Homo sapiens: one gene and its partners. The protein of the gene in region 2 purifies or fractionates together with the protein of the main gene of each other region. This does not show direct contact. Each region holds a gene or a part of one and is shown on either strand. Other genes may lie near its edges. The genes, in order: SLC12A6, SLC25A35 and CPT2.

Region 1 (4,437 bases), on a different chromosome or scaffold from region 2:
AAAATTGATCCTGCTGAGGATGGATGAAAGCTGTGGGCCTGAATCAAGAAACCCAGACTTTATAAAGAGTCAAACTTTAGGAGGTTTACACTTTACATTAGGATTTCTCATTTTGTTACCAGGATCTTTTTAACCTTTTTGATCCTTTAATCCTTGAAAGGATTTGGACTTTGTGTGTCATTTGATAAAAGAGAACTTCCGGGAATACAGTTCCCATTGCTAGGAGTGCTGCTTAAACATAACCACTTGTGAGGAGCCAAGACCCCAGGCAAAACCGGGGGCCAGTTTCTGGGCCCAGGTGATTGTTAAATTTAGAGGTCTTGATCACAGCTATAGGAAATAGCTTTTCAAACAAAACATTGGTGAGTCAGAATTTATCGAACACCACCATTTATACATTAAATAAACACTAAGAAAAAATATTCTAGCGACAAATGTAGTGGTGAAAACATGGAATGGATTTGAGAAAATACATCAACGTCTTCTCCAGGTATAAAAAAACGTATTATTTAGTGGAACTTTCAGTCTGACTAGAAAGTGGACATAGCATTTATTAAAAGGACAAGAACAACAACAAAAAATTAAAGTAGGACAAATGTGTTTAAGGTACTTTATAGTTTTATTTTTATTTATTTATTTCTTTGAGACGGAGTTTTGCTCTTGTCCCCCCAGGCTGGAATGCAATGGTGCGTTCTCGGCTCACTGCAACCTCCGCCTCCCAAGCTCAAGCGATTCTCCTGCCTCAGTCTAAGGAATAGCTGGGATTACAGGCACACGCCACCACGCCCGGCTAATTTTTGAATTTTTGGTAGAGACGGGGTTTCGCTATGCTGGCCAGGCTGGTCTGGAACTCCTGAGCTCAGGTGATCGATCACGCCCGCCTCAGCCTCCCAAAGTGCTAGGATTACAGTCGTGAACCACCGCGCCAGGCCTACTTTATAGTTTTAATTTTTTTTTTTTACATAAAAGTGGTTTATTTGTATGTAGACCTCTACATAAAAATTACAATGAGGGTTATTCCCAGGTATAGGAGCGGTGTTTCTGGTTAAAGAAATCATGAATGATGTTTTCAGAGACACTCATGAAAGAGAAATGGCTCCCCGGGTTCTGAGGGTGAGGAGCAGCGCCCGCCCTCTAGGATGCTTCCAGAGTGAGTGTGCAGCACAGCCGGACCGAGGAAAAGGATTATTCCCCTCTTCACGCGGGTCGGGCCGTGCCCTGGACTACAGCTCCCGTCGTGCCCCTGGCCACTCGTATTCGGCCCCGCCCCGCCTGCCGTGTCCCGCGGCGAGCGCAGGCGCGCTGCACTCGGTCACCGCGGGCTGCGGCGGCTGGGCGGGGCTTTCGGGCGCCCGCGGGACGGTTCCGCCCTCTCACTGCACCCCCGGGCTTCTCTTCGCAAGGTTCACCTCGAATGAGGAACAAGCGGGGAGGGAAGGGAAGGGCTGCGGCGGCGCGGGCGCACCCCGTCGGGCCCGGGGCTGGGGGAGGCCAGGTCACGTAACTGCTGCTCTGGCGTCGGGCCGGGGAGGGGGCGCCAGCCCCGGCAGCGCGAACCCTGCGCGCGCCGCGGCTCTGAAACAGTTACCGGCTAGTAAACAACAGCTGCGCGCGCACCCGCATCAGCTGGCGCCGGGATACTGCACCTGCGACCTCCTTCTCCCTCACCCTGCTGCCCAGTCAGGCCAGCCTGCGTGGCCGTCTCCTCCTCTACTGGGACCCTGAGGAAGAACGACGAGGGGGTGACCTGCGCCGGGGCGGGGGTAGGGGAGAACGCGCCTCCGGCAAAGGGGGTGGCTCGTCCTGTCACACGCAGGAGAAACCTAGCGAGCGGACCGTGGCTCAGTGGACTAGCTACGACTTGCCACGACTCTGAGCTGCAGTCCGAGGTGTCTTGATCCGCTAACCTCCTCCCAGACCCCGAGGACCTTTCTGCTAGGAGAAGAGCGGGCGCGCCACCCCCACCGACCTCTCGGAGACAGGAATCCGCTCTGCCCCTGCATCCTCCTCTGCTCACCCTTCTCTCAGTAGTGTGGGTTATTTTTCCCGTTATGCATGTGCACCTTTCCCACCAGACCCAAGTGGATTGTCGACATCAAAAACACCGGGTGGCTTTGCATACACCTCCCCCCAGCCAGACCTGTGGGGTATTCACCTGATACACAACAGGTGGCCGGGTGTACACCTTTTAGCAATCTGATCCACGCTATAGTCGCCTGATAAAGGTTTGCCTGCACGCACTTCGCCCAACTAGAACCGTGGGACACTCACCAGATAAAGGACTACCTCGACAGGAAACTGGGGGCTGAGGGGAGGGAGGCTTCATCTGCTGCCCTGAGACCATGGCACTGAGCCTTCAGCCCCGGACCAGAGGGGTTAGCTAGGTAGCTCTTCATTCTGAAGGAAAGAAGTCACACAAGATTGGCATTGTTTTGTCTTTTTGTTTTTTGTTTTTTTCTCTCTTAAAAAATATATTCACCTATTGGTGATGCACTTTCTAGGACAGTCGGCTTGAATTCTGAGTAGAAGTATTCTTAGTTGGGGCTTTTTGTGTGGTGTGAATCAAGGTTATTGAAATGTGTTATTTTTCAAGTTATCTTTTGTATTGCAGTCAAAAGTAGCTAGCGTAAGAGGAAGATTTTGCGAGGTTCCCCCCACTTTTTTTGTTCTTAAAAAGAACAAAATGCATCCTCCAGAAACCACCACCAAGATGGCTTCAGTTCGGTTCATGGTGACACCGACAAAGATCGATGACATTCCAGGTTTGTCAGACACCAGTCCGGACCTCAGCTCTCGATCTAGTTCCCGAGTAAGATTTAGCTCCCGGGAAAGCGTGCCTGAAACAAGCCGGAGTGAGCCTATGAGTGAGATGTCTGGGGCCACCACTTCGCTGGCAACTGTTGCACTGGATCCACCCAGTGACCGGACTTCTCACCCCCAGGATGTCATCGAGGGTAAGTAGAAACACAGACCGCAGCATACTTTCATTACTGGGTTCTTTATCCAAGATGACCATCTATGGATCTGGAAGATCATAATCATATAATTATGATTATAATAGTCATCAGGAACCAAGGCATCTCTTTGTGAGATGCTTAGGAACTCTTTGGAATAATAGCATAGTGGCTCTTTGCAGTAGTAATTTGGTATGTGGGAAGGTGTATGACAAGAAGGAAGGCAAATGTATATTTTAACTTCCTCATTTTTGTCTTCTTAGAAATGAAATGGGTATTTTGGTTAAAAGTGAATATCAAAGAATGTAATCGTTTTCAGCACACAGAATCCTAAATTTTAAAATTTAGTGAGTTGGATATGTGTTCTGTAGCCATCATTGGCTATTTCAGTCTGCTTTAAGACTGGTTTCATGGAGTAGTTACTGGTCGTATCTTAGCAGCTTTCCTCCAAGACTTCGAATGTGTATTGCAAAATTCTTTTTTGAAATCTGTATTTTTATGGAGACCTTGACACAAGTAGCTAAGCCCACTCAGGGTGATGGTGGGTAGACCTAATGTGCTATTCTGTCAAATGGAAGACTTCTGAAAAGGCTTTTAGGGCCTGATTCCCATGTAATTTATTCTCTCTGAGCTTTAGATGGAAAGTCTGATGATTAGAGTTAGCAGGTAGCACACAAGCCACTCCTGGCTCATGTTGACTGCTACAGACCTTTAGCTTCCTAAACCAGTTTGTGTGTGTCAGCTGGCTTGGTTTTATTTGAGGTACTGGGAAGAGGTGATGGAAGAGAGAGAAGAGAGAAAATGGGGAGATCATAACATTTTTTGGACTCTGAAATTTAAAAGTTTGAGACCTGTACTGCTTTATATATTTAGTTTTATGCTGTGTTGTAACTAATGTAATCTTTTAATGATAAAAATTTCCCTTAAAGACTCTTAAAATAATATTCCACCCAAGTTTGAAAACCATAGCCTCACCCACTGACTTGTGAAAGCAAGGCTTACTCACCATTTTCCGGTGTCAGGAAATATTGTTCCTTTTAACCTAAAGGGTTCAGGAAACCAGAATGATTTTAGTTCCCTAATTCTGTTTGTGTTTTTAGTATCTGGAGACAAGGTAGATTTGGTAAAGTTTACAGTCCTAGAATTCACTCATCCTTGACTAATCATTTTTTCTTTTATGGAGACATAGGTTGGTTCTCAGACTTTACTGTTTTCAACTTTTTGACAAATTTTACAGTGTGTCATACACTGGATTAAAATTACAGTATGGAATACAAATTTATCATTTCCTCTTCCTCCAAATTAATTCCAAATTGTGGTTTTAGTTTTTATCCATCATGCTGTATTTAGGTTGTAAAAATTCCAGGTAAAGACTATACCAGTGTTAATTTCTTAATATTGTAATTATCATTAGGTAATTTATAGTTTAGTTTGTTAGACTTGTGACTTACATGTTACAGAATTGTATTTTTATTCTTTGGAA
Region 2 (2,989 bases):
TTCTGCCTGCACCCAACAGATCCAATCCCAGCCACTGCTCTGCTCAACCCATCGGTTCTGTCCCATTTTGCCCCTGGAGTCTACCCAGACCCTCTTTACTCTTTTTTTAGATGGAGTCTCGCTCTGTTGCCCAGGCTGAAGTGCATTGGCACGATCTCGGCTCACTGCAACCTCCGCTTCCCGGGTTCAAGTGATTCTCCTGCCTCAGCCTCCCGAGTAGCTTGGGACTACAGGCGTGCACCACCACACCCAGCTAAATTTTTTTTGTTTTGTTTTGTTTTGTTGAGACAGAGTCTTGCTCTGTTGCCCAGGCTGGAGTGCAGTGGCGCAGTCTTGGCTCACTGCAACCTCCACCTCCCGGGTTCAAGTGATTCTCCTGCTGCAACCTCTTGAGTAGCTGGGATTACAGCCATGCGCCACCACGTCCAGCTAATTTTTGTAATTTTAGTAGAGATGGGGTTTCACCATGTTGGTCAGGCTGGTCTCGAACTCCTGAACTTGTGATCCGCCCGCCTCGGCCTCCCAAAGTGCTGGGATTACAGGCATGAGCCACTGCACCCGGCAATTTTTGTATTTTTAATAGAGATGGGGTTTCACCATGTTGGCCAAGCTGGTCTCAAACTCCTGACCTCAGGTGATCCACCCGCCTGGGCCTCCCAAAGTGCTAGGATTACAGGCGTGAGCCACCGTGCCTGATGCCTCTTTCCAATATGTACTCCAGTTCCTCTAATTTTCTGCCCCTGTTTCTCCTGACCAGTGAATGGCCTCACTTGCATACATCCCGCCCCAGTTCTTGGGTGCCCAGGGAAGGAACAATGGGGTGGCTAGACAACCAAGGGCCCACATTCTGGCTCTAAGCCCACATTGAACTGGTTGTCTGGACAAGAGATTCCTATTAAGGACCCATCCTTGGCAGTGTTAGGATGGCAGCCCCTGATGCTGGGCTGTCTGAACCCCACCCCCGGTCTTCCCCACACTAGGGCATGTTTCAGGCGCTAACCGAGATTGGCCAGAAACATGGTCTGGTGGGGTTATGGCGTGGGGCTCTGGGCGGCCTGCCCCGAGTTATCGTCGGTTCCTCCACCCAGCTGTGCACCTTCTCATCCACCAAGGACCTCCTGAGCCAGTGGGAGGTACTGCCTGGGAAATGGGTGGGTCTGTTTCGGGAAGGGGGGAAGGGGAGGGCAAGCTGCACTAGGCCCTGGAGGGGATGGTGCCCAACATTCACAGGTGAGGGAGTGGCAGGAGGGCTTGGAGGTCAACTCTTTAGACCCTTCCCACAGTTCTCTTGTCACTTCCTCCCAGAAGGGGTACCTGAGCCTTCAGGGTACCCTGGCCTTCCTCCTTCTCACTGTTTTTGCACTGTTATAACTGGTGCAGTGGAAGCTCCCCCAGTTACCAGCATCTGTGTCCCCAGGGCAGGGACTGTCCTGTCCTTGGGGTGTAATAGTTGGCTGGTTGACAACGCTCTTCCTCTCTACCCCCTTAGATCTTTCCTCCCCAGAGCTGGAAGTTGGCGCTGGTGGCTGCCATGATGAGTGGCATTGCAGTTGTCTTGGCCATGGCACCCTTTGATGTGGCCTGCACAAGGCTCTACAACCAGCCCACAGATGCACAGGGCAAGGTAAGGAAGTGCTCTGGGATGCAGGCGGGAAGCAGGGGATGGGGAAGGCAGATTGCGGGTGCAGGTGGGATAGCCTGAAATGCAGCCTGTAGAGGTGCTGCCCCTGGTGGGCTCTGACAAACTCCTTCTCTGTGCTCTCCCTCCCTCTCTGACACACTCTCAGGGCCTCATGTACCGGGGGATACTGGACGCTCTGCTGCAGACAGCTCGGACCGAGGGCATTTTTGGCATGTACAAGGGTATAGGTGCCTCCTACTTCCGCCTCGGCCCCCACACCATCCTCTCCCTCTTCTTCTGGGACCAGCTGCGCTCCCTCTACTACACAGACACTAAATAACAGCCGCTTTCCCAGTCTCCACCAAATGAGCACTCCTTGGCCACTTGTGCCTCCACCACTATGTCCTGGTGACTACTGATTAGGTGACCTTTCATCCATCCATGGGGGACAGCCAACCCCACTCCCCATCTGTTCTCAGGGTTGAATCACTACAAGAGATGAGTTTCCCTTCTTTCCTTGGGTGTTGCTTTAAACCTTCCCTACCCATTCCCTGGGTAACTCACACCCCTCTCTCAGGGCTGAACGAGTCATCCCAAAGTGTATTTCCTCCCACTCACCACTGCCACCCTTGAGTCCCTCCTGCTCCCATGCACAGTTTTAAACTCCTCCCTCCAAAACCAAAGGGAATCGAGAGACCCAATTCCCAGGCGTCTGGGACCCAGGTGTCCTGTTAGATTCAAAGGCACAGAGATTATATTGATTATAAAGCAAGTTTATTCTGAAGAGGGATTGTCTTATGTTTACGCACAGGGAAGAAATAAGAGGAAACCCTCTTTTCAACCTCTTTTCCCCCTCACAGAACCGAGTCCCCAAGTTCTCAGCAACATCATGCAGTGCTTCAGCGCCTTTACTGGGGACCAAAGATGTTAGGATCGTGAAGGGTCAGACTGGTCACCAGCTGTTCAAAGTCACCCAGGCTCCAGGGTGCAGGTGACAGATTTTCGGGGCCAAGAGATGACCTGTTGTCAGGGCTTGGGGTGGGGGAACAGATGGAGACAGAACATCATCCAGGCCTGAGGTTTGGAAATTGCCAATTCCTGTTCCCCAGAGGACCTGGGTATCAGTTACCCCAAACCTCTGGCCCACTCCTGCTTCCTTGGAGGATCCCACCAGTGAGTCTCCCTGTTCTGTCCCTCCCAGCCCGATTCTCCTGGGAACCCAGTCATGAGATACCCGCCCGTTCCTTCCTCCTTACGGGGGCTGATTGAAGGTAAGCAAGAGATCAGTCTGGTACTGGGGCAGCCTCAGCAAGGCCTGATGAAGTGTCACGTCCTTTGCTACCTAAGGGGATCAGAGTCAGGATGCTT
Region 3 (3,649 bases), on a different chromosome or scaffold from region 2:
CACCCACTGGCTACACAGGCCCCAGTTTTTTTTTCTTTTTTGTTTTTTTGAGACAGTCTCGCTCTGTCGCCCAGGCCGGAGTGCAGTGGTGTGATCTCAGCTCACTGCAACCTCCACCTCCTGGGTTCAAGCAATTCTGCTTCAACCTCCCAAGTAGCTGGGATTATAGGCACATGCCACCACACCCAGCTAATTTTTGTATTTTTAGTAGAGACAAGGTTTCACCATGTTGGCCAGGTTGGTCTCAAACTCCTGACCTCAAGTGATCCACCCGCCTCAGCCTCTCAAAATGCTGGGATTACAGGCATGAGCCACCATGCCCGGCCTCCCAGTTTTCATGATGAGGAAGTGATGGTAGCTTTTCATCTGCCCAGAAGTTAACTTTTGATGGATTTGCCTTCTAAGGCATCAAACATGTCTTCTAAGGCCTTCTCCACACATTGGAGAAACTCCCGGGCATTGCGGCCTGGGTAGGAAGAGACATTGCAGCCTATCCAGTTGTCATGAACAGCATACCCAACACCAAAGCCATCAGAGACCACAGGGGCAAAGCCCCCAAGGTTCACTGCTGGGCTGCTCAGTGTGCTCGTGGACAGGACATTGTGGTTTATCTGCCCGTATGCAGGGTCCAGGTAGAGCTCAGGCAAGATGATCCCTTTGGCTGCTGCCAGATGCCGCAGAGCAAACAAGTGTCGGTCAAAGCCCTGGCCTGTGAGAAACAAAATGGAAAACCAGAGTCTCAGGATGGAAAAGGACCTCAGGAAAACCTCCCAACTCACCACATGGTAGGAATACCCCTCACAGCATCCTTGAGAGTGGGGGAAGGCTCTACCTCTATGCACACCACCAACTGACTAACCTTCAGAGCAGCTCAAGCTAGATTATTTTAAATTATTTAGGAAATATATTATGTCATGTTACATTTAAAAATAGCTGTCAACAGCTGAGCTAAAAATGAGCCTAAAAGGAAAGCATAATTTTAAAGATGTGAAATCAGTTTAGTCAAAGAGTCAAGACAGTACAGGAAGACAGCTATGGACTCAAAAACTACAATAAAACTAAAAGTCTGATTCAAGTGTAAAAGAGAAGATTGAGTCAGTGGAACAAAATGGAAAGTCTGTTTGACCAGGGTTCGAATCTCAGTCTTACTACTAACTTGCTGTGTAACGGGGCCAGTGGCTTGGTTTTCTCCCTATAAAATGGAGGAAGAGAAGATTAGAATGTCTTGGAGGTCCCTTTCACTTCCAGCACTTCATAGCAACATGAAAGGACAACTATGACCCTCCAGGTCCTTTCCAGGTCTTGAATTTTATCAAAAAAAGGTAATGACGGATGACAATTGAGAAGAGCTTCTGAGATAACCTGTTTACAGAGAGCAGACACATTACAACTGAGGTGAAGCTAGTGGGGCCGTAAGTTTAGAAATCCTAAATTTTCAAAAGTGAGTCTGATAACCAATCAGTAATAGAAAAAGGTTGGGTGCAGTGGTGCATGCCTATAATCCTAGTGCTTTGGGAGGCCAAGGCAGGAGGATTGCTTGAGCCCAGGAGTTTGAGACCACCTTGGGCAATACAGTGGGACCTCATCTCTACAAAAAATTTTAAAAATTAGGCCCGGCATGGTGGCTTACGCCTATAATCCCAGCACTTTGGGAGGGTGAGGCGGGTAGATCATGAGGTCAGGAGTTTGAGACCAACCTGGCCAACATAGTGAAACCCCGTCTCTATTGAAAATATAAAAATTAGCTGGGCATGGTGGCATAAGCCTGTAGTCCCAACTACTCAGGAGGCTGAGGCAGGAGAATCGCTTGAACCCAGGAGGCAGAGGTTGCAGTGAGCTGAGATTGTGCCACTGCACTCCAGCCTGGGCAACAGAGCAAGAGTCCATCTCAAAAAAAAAAAAAAATTAAAATATCAGCTGGGCATGGTGGTGCATGCCTATAGTCCCAGCTATTTGGGAGGCTGAGGCAGGAGGATTGTTTGAGCCAAGGAAGTTGAGGTTGCAGTGAGCCATGATTGCACCACTGTACTCCAGCCTGGGTGACAGAATGAGACCGTGTCTCCAAAAAAAAAAAGGCCAGGTGCGGTGGCTCACGCCTGTATTCCTAGAACTTTGGGAGGCTGAGAGGGATGGATCACCTGAGGTCAGGAGTTCAAGACCAGCCTGGCCAAAATGGCAAAACCCCTTCTTTACTAAAAATGCAAAAACTAGCCAGGTGTAGTGGCGGGTGCCTATTATCCCAGCTACTTGGGAGGCAGAGGCAGGAGAATCACTTGAACCTGGGGGTGGAGGTTGCAGTGAGCCGAGATCACGCCATTGCACTCCAGCCTGGACGGAGGGAAACTCTTGTCTCCAAAAAAAAAAAAAAAAAAGAAAGAAAAAAGAATTAATGCGTCACAGCTGAAAGTGACCTTAAATGAGGACAAAGACACATGCATTTCCCCACCCCTGCTTAGGAGGCAAGAACATTCTGATCCCTAGTGGCTAGTGTGGCTGTTCAGACTGCTAGGGTAGAAAAGAAAAATTTGGGGAGTTGGCGATGGATTAAACCTAGTGAACGGGTAGAAATCAGATTTGGAGTAGAATGATTTAGGCTTGCTTACCCAAGCACTGAGGACAAGACCCAAGGGCATGCTCCCCACCCCTGCCTCACCCATTGCTGCTTCTTTGGTCAGCTGGCCATGGTACTTGGAGCACTCAACCATCATCTGCTGAAGCTCACCAGCACTGTGCCTGGAGGGCTCCCTGACAAAGGCCTCAGAGCACCTCTTTGTATAGACGGAGGCCGGGCGGATGGTCTCAGTGCGGCCGTGCTTGAATGCGGCAGTGCTACAGGACTCGTAGGTGGCCACTGTCTGCCCGTACTGCCGCAGGAAGGCCATCTGGAATGCCAGCTGGGCAACTGCGTCAGGGCTCAGCTTTTGCTTCTTCAGGAATTCTTTGCCTCCTCTCTGAAACTGGACGCAGTCAATAGTGAGGGTTTTCATGGTGGCATCAAACTTTTCCTTAGCAGCTGTGATGCCAGTCTTTAAGGCATCAGTCAGCTCGAAGTTGAGTTTCTGCACCGTGACAGTAGAGTCAGTGGTAGCTGGCTGGCTCTGTGGAGTGACGGCAGGGGTCTGAGTGCTGTCTTTAAATACTTCATTAAAAAATCTGAGCACTGCCACACCATCACCCCAAGAGTGCTCAAAGTGGACGGCAGTAGAGCCATCCTTGGCGATAATGAGGTTAAAGGATTTATCAAACCAGCGGTTTGTGCCATCCCCATGCAGCATATTGTGGGACAAGTGGACAAGGTCCTTAATGGGGAAGTCATCTAGGCAGAGACAGAACACTGCCGAGTCCACTTTCCTCAGGCTCTCCTCATTGCCACTACTCATCAGCTTCTGCCTGAGCTCTGCCCAGATGTCTCGGTTCTCACTGGTCAGGTATGCCAGGGGAAACTCGGGGGCGGGGCTGCTGTCTGAGAGAATGTACTTCAGATGTGCCTGGATTTCCGAGGGGCTCACAATGTTCCCATCTTGATCCAGGACATCAAAGATATAAAAATTTCCTTTCCTTAGGACCAGGAGGTGTCTGGCCTTGTCATCAGTGAAGAGTTCATCCCGACTGGGTTTGGGTAAACGAGTTGAGTTGAAAAGCCGAAAAT

Evidence for each region.
Region 1: the proteins of SLC25A35 (region 2) and SLC12A6 purify together in Homo sapiens (affinity purification with mass spectrometry; one large-scale study listed by BioGRID and IntAct). This does not show direct contact.
Region 3: the proteins of SLC25A35 (region 2) and CPT2 purify together in Homo sapiens (affinity purification with mass spectrometry; one large-scale study listed by BioGRID and IntAct). This does not show direct contact.

The regions. Positions count from the first base shown.
Region 1 is NC_000015.10:34,334,927-34,339,363, reverse strand, and holds the start of SLC12A6 (solute carrier family 12 member 6), read left to right. Parts: upstream 1-1,582; 5' UTR 1,583-2,032; intron 2,033-2,347; exon of another isoform or gene 2,348-2,611; 5' UTR 2,612-2,683; coding exon 2,684-2,954; intron 2,955-4,437.
Region 2 is NC_000017.11:8,289,477-8,292,465, reverse strand, and holds the end of SLC25A35 (solute carrier family 25 member 35), read left to right. Parts: intron 1-110; coding exon of another isoform or gene 111-194; exon of another isoform or gene 195-288; intron 289-980; coding exon 981-1,133; intron 1,134-1,489; coding exon 1,490-1,624; intron 1,625-1,787; coding exon 1,788-1,961; 3' UTR 1,962-2,405; downstream 2,406-2,989. Other genes in the region: RANGRF (ran guanine nucleotide release factor), read right to left, coding at 2,530-2,653, 2,878-2,963. UniProt on the Homo sapiens protein: Putative antiporter that exchanges dicarboxylates and sulfur oxoanions across the inner membrane of mitochondria.
Region 3 is NC_000001.11:53,210,324-53,213,972, reverse strand, and holds part of CPT2 (carnitine O-palmitoyltransferase 2, mitochondrial isoform 1 precursor), read right to left. Parts: coding exon 2,654-3,649; intron 710-2,653; coding exon 378-709; 3' UTR 1-377. UniProt on the Homo sapiens protein: Involved in the intramitochondrial synthesis of acylcarnitines from accumulated acyl-CoA metabolites.